Regions from separate parts of the Homo sapiens genome. Here regions 1 and 2 are each reported to be linked to region 3. Evidence: microRNA targets listed by miRTarBase, many of them from high-throughput screens and not tested one by one. Region 3 holds a microRNA gene; each other region holds the end of a gene's coding sequence.

The links. Region 3 holds the annotated microRNA hsa-miR-378j (ACUGGAUUUGGAGCCAGAA, at 1,046-1,064, opposite strand). A microRNA usually pairs through its seed, bases 2 to 8, with sites in the 3' UTR of a target mRNA and lowers its output. Matches are read on the target gene's strand: a 7mer-m8 pairs with bases 2 to 8, a 7mer-A1 pairs with bases 2 to 7 and ends in A, and an 8mer does both.
Region 1: miRTarBase lists LMTK2 as a target of hsa-miR-378j. Seed matches in the 3' UTR shown: 8mer at 2,329-2,336.
Region 2: miRTarBase lists CLMN as a target of hsa-miR-378j. Seed matches in the 3' UTR shown: 7mer-m8 at 796-802.

The regions. Positions count from the first base shown.
Region 1 is chr7:98,204,946-98,207,945 of GRCh38, reverse strand. It overlaps LMTK2 (lemur tyrosine kinase 2), which reads right to left. Exons shown (of 14, transcript NM_014916.4): 14 at 1-2,482. The coding sequence ends at 2,454. Among named protein-coding and RNA genes, the nearest start is that of BHLHA15, 5.0 kb to the left of the region's middle.
Region 2 is chr14:95,188,778-95,191,777 of GRCh38, reverse strand. CLMN (calmin) reads left to right here. Exons shown (of 13, transcript NM_024734.4): 13 at 46-3,000. The coding sequence ends at 214. Among named protein-coding and RNA genes, the nearest start is that of DICER1-AS1, 33 kb to the right of the region's middle.
Region 3 is chr17:37,613,956-37,616,955 of GRCh38, forward strand. MIR378J (microRNA 378j) reads right to left here and starts at 1,084; the gene lies at 976-1,084. DDX52 (DExD-box helicase 52) reads right to left here. Exons shown (of 15, transcript NM_007010.5): 15 at 1-398. The coding sequence ends at 341.

The DNA.
Region 1 (3,000 bases), not on the chromosome of region 3:
ATATATATTTTGTATTTTTAGTAGAGACGAGGTTTCGCCATGTTGCCCAGGCTGGTCTTGAACTCCTGGGCTCAAAGTGATCCGTCCGCCTCGACCCCCCAATGTGTTGGGATTGCAGGCGTGAGCCACCGCGCCCGGCCAAAATCTTAATCCTAGTGGAAAACTGACAGCCCCAAAAGGTTAATAAATGTACTCGAGGCTGACACTGTATAAGACGACGACAGATTCCATGATCTGTATGACTTTGGTCATTAAATCTGAACTCCTTAAACCTGCAATTGAAAAAGTAGTATAATCACGTCTCATTTCTCTTCAGCCAAGACTAATCTTAGATGTAAAAACTGAGAAAACTCAGGAAGTCCCCACAGCAAGAATTCAGAGTCATGACAATTTTGGCAAAATCATCTTCTAATGCCCTGTTAATTAAAAAAAAAAAAAAAATTCGCGCATCCCGAGACAGTGGTGCTCCCCACATAGCCCAGGTGGGCACCGCATCCACCCCATGCCTACACAGGAGGGGACTCTCTCCATCCTGAACTTCTTGCTTTGGAAAGTTATTGCTTAGTATAAAAAATGAGAGGAGTAGGGTGGAACTGGCAATGAAGGTCATTTGCTGCGCACTCTCTGGCAACGTCCGCCTGCATTTTGCACTAGGACTCAACTTCCTTCCGTGTACCCCAGGCGGCCCCTGCACGGGTCTGGAGAGCACCCCAGGTTGCGCTGGAGTCTGGAAACATATCAGCACCGGAAAATATGTTGGGTGAAGGGTGAGTATGAGGGGACTGCAGGCCCAAGGACCCCCGAAGGAACGGCTGCCTCCCCAGCACAGCACAGCCGCGCTGCACCAGCCACCGAGGACTTCCTTATGTCAGAGCAGAACTCAGGGAGGGAGGTGTGAGGTCGCCCATGACCACAGGGGCTCGTGACGATGTGACGAAGCTACACTGGGAGCACTCGGGCCCTTTCAAAGCCAGAAGAGAACCTGGGGCTTAATGCAGAACGGAGGGTCCGTGAGATGAGTCCCGGGCCATGCAGGACCACCCAAGGCCCCGACCCGAACTATGTGTCGGCTGCTGATGCTCTGCCGTCGGCCGTCGTCCCTTGTCCATCCCCCTTCACAGCTGCAGGATGTGGTGTTATCTCATCCCACATGGATAACCACAGACTGGCCAGGCCCAGCTGGACGTGACGTGGAGTGGCTCGGAGGAGAAGATTCGGCTGTGGAGGTTTTTTTAAAGCTCAAGTCCCCACCACCTGAAGTGTGCACACATCATCAAGTCGAACGGTCCCCCACGGCTGGTATGCTCTGCGGAGATGAGTCTGCCTGAGTTCCCCGGCTTCTTGAAGGAAGGACTGACAGGAACACGGAAGCTTCCCAGCAGCCTGGCCTCCGAAAACCAGGCAGAAGAGCTGCGCGGAGGGAAGCGGTGCGGTGCCCCGTGCAGGGTGCAGCTCTCTGGACCTGCCACGCCAGCACGTCCCCAGGGATGGGCCGGGTCCATCTGAGGTCTGCGGCCACAACCTGTTGGTTTTTACCAAAAGGGCTTTAAAAAATGGGATGTGGGGTGGGAGAATGACAAGGAGAGGCTGCAAGACCTCTCAGCTCCTCAGAGAGAAGCCTCATTTGCTGCGGCAAAGCCGCTTCATCAAGAAGAGACAAAAATGCATTCAAGTCCATCAACAAAACAGTGGTATTTTGGACTCAATGAAAATATTTCCTATATGAACATAAAACACTAACATTCAGAATCATTTATCATTTATGAAAGAGTACCATATGTACAATCCCAACAATCCTAGACACAGTAGAACACTCAAAATATTTAAGCTTCACAAGTACCATGCAGCGCAAACTATAAAACAGAAAAAAAATCAAACTAGTGGCTAGCATCGGCTTGACCTGCCTCATTCCCCTCGAATAACTGAAGATCCTGTACAACAATGGAGACTCTCGGAACATTTATCCACAGTGCAATTACAGAAAGCAGTTCGTGATTTCTCTAGAAATAATAAATATGGCTCACTGGTGACCATTCCCCTCACGTGTCCTCTGTGGTGCCCACACGTGCGCCGGGATGTGCAGGCGTGGACGCAGAGACGCCCCTGTGGAAAGCACACATGCGGTGCACACAGCTCCACACGCGCGCGCACATGGAGGCTGTGCCCCTGCCTCCCCCGACGGCCAGCGCATGAGCACTGCCTGGGAGGCCGCGGCCGCGGGTGCACGGGGCACTGAGGGACGCCGGCTCCTGGACACGGCCTCGCTCTGCACCTGGGCTCCCGAGGGCCCCGCCTTGAACGCAGCTAAGAGCCGTCTCCCTCTTCACCTCTGGATTCTTCCTCCCAATCTCATGTCAGCAAATGGCGAGTGGATGTCGCTGCTCGGGCTGAGGGCGCAGGGGCGCCGCTCCAGGGGAGCAGCCTCGGACCCGAGCGTGCGCGTTGGCAGCCACCTAGTCCTTTTCTCCGTCTTCGCTGCTTCCTGTTGAGGAGAGAGGAAGCGAGACGACAAAGCTGGGTTTTTAAAATGATCAGACAGGCATGGCGTGGATGGCATGTGCGCTGCACCACAGGAACGGAAGCGGGTGTTTTGAGCCCAGCACCGCCTGAGCCGCCCTTCCTGTCCTTTCCTTCGGAAGCAGCCCCTGCCTGACTCTCCCACATCTGCTAGGCTCAAATGCCCGCTGGGCGCTAAGGGTCAGGGTGCAGAAGAAGTCAGCTGGGATCCACACATCTGCCCCGACAGACTGGCAGATAGCAGGTGTTATCTAATCGGCACAAATGAAGCCTAGCGCCGAGGGAAATAAAGCCTCTTTGTATTCCATATTTATTATTTGATCTGTAAACTTCCAATCAAAAAATGAGCCTATTAACCTTTATCTTTCAATCTAGTGACGGGGAAAGAAGGCTCCCTATGTTCAGATACCTCGACTTCAAATGGCCCCTGCCCATTCACCCCACCCCGCCCTCGGGAGCCACACCAGGACCAAGACTCAGCAG
Region 2 (3,000 bases), not on the chromosome of region 3:
GGGAACCTGCTTGGTAACTGCGTTTCCTCTGTGTTTCTTCTGTAGGAAGGCCAACAGCTCAGGAGAAGCCATGTCACTGGGGAGCCACAGCCCGCAGAGTGACTCCCTGACACAGCTTGTCCAGCAGCCGGATATGATGTATTTTATTCTCTTCCTGTGGCTCCTGGTGTACTGCTTGCTGCTCTTCCCACAACTGGATGTTAGCAGGCTCTGATACGTGTGTCTGGATAATAAAAAAGACAGGACCCTGACCAGGGGCGGGGTTACTTCATTTTATTTTGGGTTCTGGGTGGGGCACTTCTACAGACAGTTGAGGACCTCCGAGGAAACTTAGACCCCCTTTCTCGCTATTGTGGTTTTTTTTTTTTTTTCAGGTTTCCTTTTTTTTCTGGACAACCTGAGCATGCTTTTTTCTTTGGCTGTGTACTCAAAACTCAGGCATGCAGCTGGATCCGTAGGTGGGGTTTTGTCCTTGTGTGCCTTGCTGGGTTGGATAGGGAGCATTGTTAGTGATCATTAGCCCGCCTGGATCTTAGCACACCCCACATTGCAGGTTCACACGCTGGATGAACTTGAGTTTCTTACCTCTCAGATGAAGGGCTGCTTAATGAGAAAGAGGGTGGGCACCCCAGGCCAAGCCCCAGCTGGGGAGAGAGCTGCCACGTTTTCCTCCAAGCGTGGGTGTTTGAGAGAAGGTGCTGGGGTCCATGCACCTGTCGCAGTCCGGTAACTGGTTGCATTCACTAGGGGAAATCCGAGCAGCCAGCTCTGTGTAAGCACATCCAGGAATGGCAGAATCCAGGGAGGAAGGTGAAAGCTGTGTTGAGAGCCACTGTGTGCTCTTTTTCACCCTGTTTTTTTTGTTGTTTTTTTGTTTTGTTTTTTGTTTGAGGGGAGATAACACTTGAAATTCAGTTTTCCATTGATTGGATTGAGATAGAACCATGATTTTCAAACCAGATCGCCAGGGCCCAGCAGGGCCATATAAAAGCCATGAGGAGTGGCTGGGCTGGAATCAGCTCCCAGCAGTGCTGGAGCTGGGTGGTGGGGTAGCTTCCTGCCCACTAAAGCTTTGGTGCACACCTCCCTCAGAATGCATGTCTTGGAACGGGCATTCTTTGTGGTCACTTGTAATGGGTTTCTTGAAGAGGCTTTCTGGACAGCACTCCGGGAGCAGGCCAGCACAGGAGGTTTGTGAAAGAAGAGAGGCATCTCTAGCACCCCTGCCCCCAGTCTTCCTCAGCCCCAGGCTCCCTCTGCTCTCTCCTCCCTGCCAAGACTCAGGTCCGTGGTGAGTCTCTGCATTGGTTCCTCCTCCCCTTGCTCTCCCCTTCAGAAAGCATGTACCAGGCAACCCTTATAAAATCACAAATGAGTCAGGAGGGGACTCAGTGAGCATCTTGTCTAGCTGGACCCAGAGAGACAGAGCAGCTTGACCAAGATCATATAGCCGACCAGGGGCAGACTTGCAGTGAGCACACAGGCACCTGATGCCCTGTCCAGAGCTGTCACCCCTTGTAGGAAACTTCCACTGGGCACACCAATGTCCTGAGAAAAAGATAAAATGACTAGATTAAAATGTCCACATTCAAGCAAAACCAAAAAGTTTAGACCAACTATCGACATTTGTTTTGTTCTTGTATTTTTCCCATGAGGAATTCTTACTCACCTTCAAGCTCATCCCCAATTCCTTCTGAAATACCCTTGACAGCTGCAACAGCTTGTCATTTGACATACCAGCGTCGCTCTTACTCCAGGAATCACGTTTCTTTCTTTGCTAGCCAAGGACTTGCTCATTTCAAGCAGTGGGTTTCAAGTTTACAGAATTCCAGCATGGCCAGAAGAATTTACATAGCACATCTGAGTCGATGACAGCCAAAATCTGGCCTCTAAACCAGTCTGATTATAGTCTGTCTCCCCTCCTGAAAGAATTTCAGCCTTCCAACCAGAAAGCTGCTGGGAGCTTGGAGTGATTCCATCTGGAAGGCCAAGAGCCCCATGGAAAATGAGCTAATTAATGAGCTCCCTGGCATCAATGAAAGCTCAAAGGTACAGATAATAAAGATTATGTGATAGTTTATAACTCTGGGCACCATGCAGTCCTTGCCTAAATTAGATGCTCGAAGAGCCTGGGAAGAGCCAACCCAAATGTGAATCATTTCATTTTATGGGTCTAGACCTTGTTCAGAAAAACCTCTGCAAGATACTTCTCTCACCTATTACAACTTGTAATATTGTTTAAAACATCTACTGGCAAGATGCCTGAAAGTCATTTGGTTCAGGTTGGCAGTCAACTGATATTTTGCAAAGGAAAAAAAAATCTCATTTGAGTATAGGCTTCTATGGAAGAAGCTGGATATAGAAAATGGATGTGGAAGTCTGCAGGACAAACCACCCCATTGCTTGTAAATTTTTTTTAAATTAAAAGAAATACAATAAGGCTTTTAACAAGAACTAGCAGTCCCCTAAGTCTCGCTGCTTAGAAGTAACCACTTTCAACTCTCTTATGTTTGCATTTCTACATAACGTGCTTACACTTTATTTTTTAATTTAGAAACATCTACTGGCTTGCTGTCACAGTAGAGGAGGATTTCACTCTTACCATACCGTGCTTTGGTTTTCCAGTATAGCTAGATCACATCATTTAGTACATTTCTATTAGGTGTTGACATTACCTGGAGCACTTAAGGATTGTTGACTCCCAAGCCCAGCAGTGTGTTATGGTTACATGTCCTTTCTCCTCCAAATGTCCCCATTAATTTGCTATTCTCTCTCTTTACTTTTTTTTTTTTTTTGGTGTGGCACATTCTTTAATAACTTCCTGAGGAAGAGAACATGGGAAGTAAATATGGTTGTAAATATTTTGAGATTTTTGCATGACTTAAGATGTCTGTATTCTGCCCTTAACAGAAATGTGGCTGAGCATAGAATGACAGGTGGAAAATAATACCCTCCCCTAGCCCCTCCCAAGCGTGCTGGTTGAGATTTCTGATGCCATTC
Region 3 (3,000 bases):
ATAATCATTTAAAAGTCACCTACAGAGCTGGGTGCAGCAGCTTGTGCCTGTAATCTCAGTTACTCAGGAGGCTAAGGCAGGAGGATTGTGTGAGGTCAGGAGTTCAAGACCAGCCTGGACAACATGGCAAGACCCTCATCTCTACAGGAAAAAAAAAAGGCACCTACAAATTGAAACTGACTTGATAGTTTAGGATCATTTATCACCAGTCCCATGTACTTGTAGTTGATTTCAAATGTTTGGTACAGGTGACTGTAAGACTTCAAGTATTCCATGAAAATAACATTCATGCTGGGATCATAAAATTACATTTCTGGGACAGTATTTTTAAAGTCTGTTTTTAACTTTTGTCTTCAAGAGCTACTTTCTTCTTGCTGTTCTGACCAGTGACCTTTTTCCTGTAAAGAGCAAAGTAAGAAAAATTGAATAAAAAATTCTACGTATATTTACTTTCCATAACCCTACCACCAGTTTAATAAACATTTACTGAAACCTACTGTGTATCAAATAATGAGGCACTAGGAACACAAAGATGCATTAGACATGGTCTCTGCCCTTTAGAAAATCACAATCACCTAAGTGAGGCAGAACCATCACAGTAAACTACATTACTACATGGTATGACACATAGGTTCGGATCCTGACCTAATGAGTTCACAATGATTCAGTGCTTACTGCATGCTAGAAACGGTTACTAAGTGCTTTACATGTATTAACTCGGGTAATTTTCCTAACAACTTATGAGGAGTATTGTATTATTATCCTCCGTTTACAGATGAGGAAAATGAGGCACAGAGTGGTTGACTTGCCAGTCATCACTCACTGGTAATCCATGTTAGACACGAATCCTATCAGTCTGATCCTATAGCCTAGTGAAGGTTGAATGTCATTAACTAAGTGGTAACAGACAAAGGAAAAAAGTTTTGAGAAAATAATCAATGTTTGCAAACTATTATTATAGTAATACAAAGTTCTTTGGTGTATATTAACTCATATAATCCCAAATCCCAACTCTACACAGGGAAGTAGATATTAGAACCAGTTCTTCTGGCTCCAAATCCAGTTCCTCCCCGACTCACTGCATGGGGCTGAGTTTGTGATGCCTGAAGTGAGGTCCACTAGGCAGCAAGGATTCAGGTTTGTAGCTCAATGGGGAAGTTGGGGCTGAAGATAACAACCTTAAGAGCGATCAGCACAGAAATATGAGCTGAGCCTATAGGCATGGGTGGGATCATTAAGGAAACATCTATAGCATAGAGGTAAGCCAGAGTTGGATCATGATGGGTCTTGCTTGTATGCTATGTTAAGTAGTATGGCCTTTACATATGAAGAAAATGGAGACACAACCAAAGCACCTTAAGCAGGGGGCTGATATGACAAGATTTATATCAAGTGTCTTCGAAGTCTTAGTACAAATTAAGTTTTAATAACCTCAGAAGAAGGCAGGTGCAGTGGCTCATGCCTGTAATCCCACCATGTTGGGAGGCAGAGGTAGGCAGATCGCTTGAGTCCAGGAGTTTGAGACCAGCCTGGGCAATATGGCAAAACCCCATCTCTACTAAAAATAAAACAATATTAGCCAGGCACGGTGGCATAAGCCTGTAGTCCTAGCTTCTCAGGGGGCTGAGATGGGAGGACTGCTTGAGCCCAGGAGGTCGAGGCTGCAGTGAGCCCTGATTGTGCCACTGCACTCCAGTCTGGGTGACAGATTGAGACCCTGTCTCAAAAAACAAACAAAAAACCCCAGAAGTATAAATGCTATAAACTTATAAAAATCAGCATTTAGACTGGGCGCGGTGGGTCATGCCTTAGCACTTTGGGAGGCCGAGGCGGGCGGATCACAAGGCCAGGAGATCAAGACCACCCTGGCCAACATGGTGAAACCCCGTCTCTACTAAAAATACAAAAATTAGCTGGGCATGGTGGTGTGTGCCTGTAATCCCAGCTACTCAAGAGGCTGAGGCAGGAGAATCACTTGAACCCGGGAGGTGAAGGTTGCAGTGAGCCGAGATCGTGCCACTGCACTCCCGCCTAGCAACAGAGATTCCATCTCAAAACAAAAACAAATCAGCATTTAAAGTATAATTATTTAAAATACTGATGTATCTTATTAAAATTCAACATAGCCACCATCTTATGTTCTAGTTGATTTTTGACCTTTGTAAAAACTTTCATCAGTTGCTGCTCAGTGCCTGAAAGGACTGCATTTGTTATCTTGGCTTTAAGACCATCCAAAGAGTAACACATACACAACAGTTCTGATGTGACCCACTCCTCTCCTACCAACAAGTCTATTAAGACAGATTAGGTGACCAAAGTGGCCAAGCATAACAAGGTTCGCTACCAATCCACTGGTCTAAGTGTCACCCAGAAACTGTTGCGACAGAAAATTAAAATTTAAAAATGTTGGCCAGGTGCAGTGGCTCACACTTGTAATCCCAGCACTTTGGGAGGCCGAGGTGGGAGATCACATGAGGCCAGGAGTTTGAGAGTTCGAGACCATCTTGGCCAACATGGTGAAACCCCATCTCTAGTAAAAATACAAAAAAATTAGCCAGGCATGGTGGCGGGTGCCTGTAATCCCAGCTACCCAGGAGGCTGAGGCACGAGAATCACTTGAACCTGGGAGGTGGAGGTTGCAGTGAGCCGAGATTGCGACACTGCACTCCAGCCTGGGCGACAGGGTGGCAGAGCAAGACTCCATCTCAAAAAAAAAAAAAGTAAATGTGATTGTGAAGCATTCCCAAAACTGAATAAGTACAAATGGAATTTGTACTTATTGATTGATTGACTATTCAAATATACTTTTTTCAGTTTGTAGCACTTATCCTTCCCAAGTTATTAAAAGTATGATAAAATTTTGAGACACTATATATACACTGTATATTTGAACCGACTTTTATTCCTCATAGACAATACCAACATGTGAAAACTCTTGTTCACTTATTTACAAAGCACACTCTAATTTTCATGCCTCTATTCATCTTGTTCCCTTCTCCA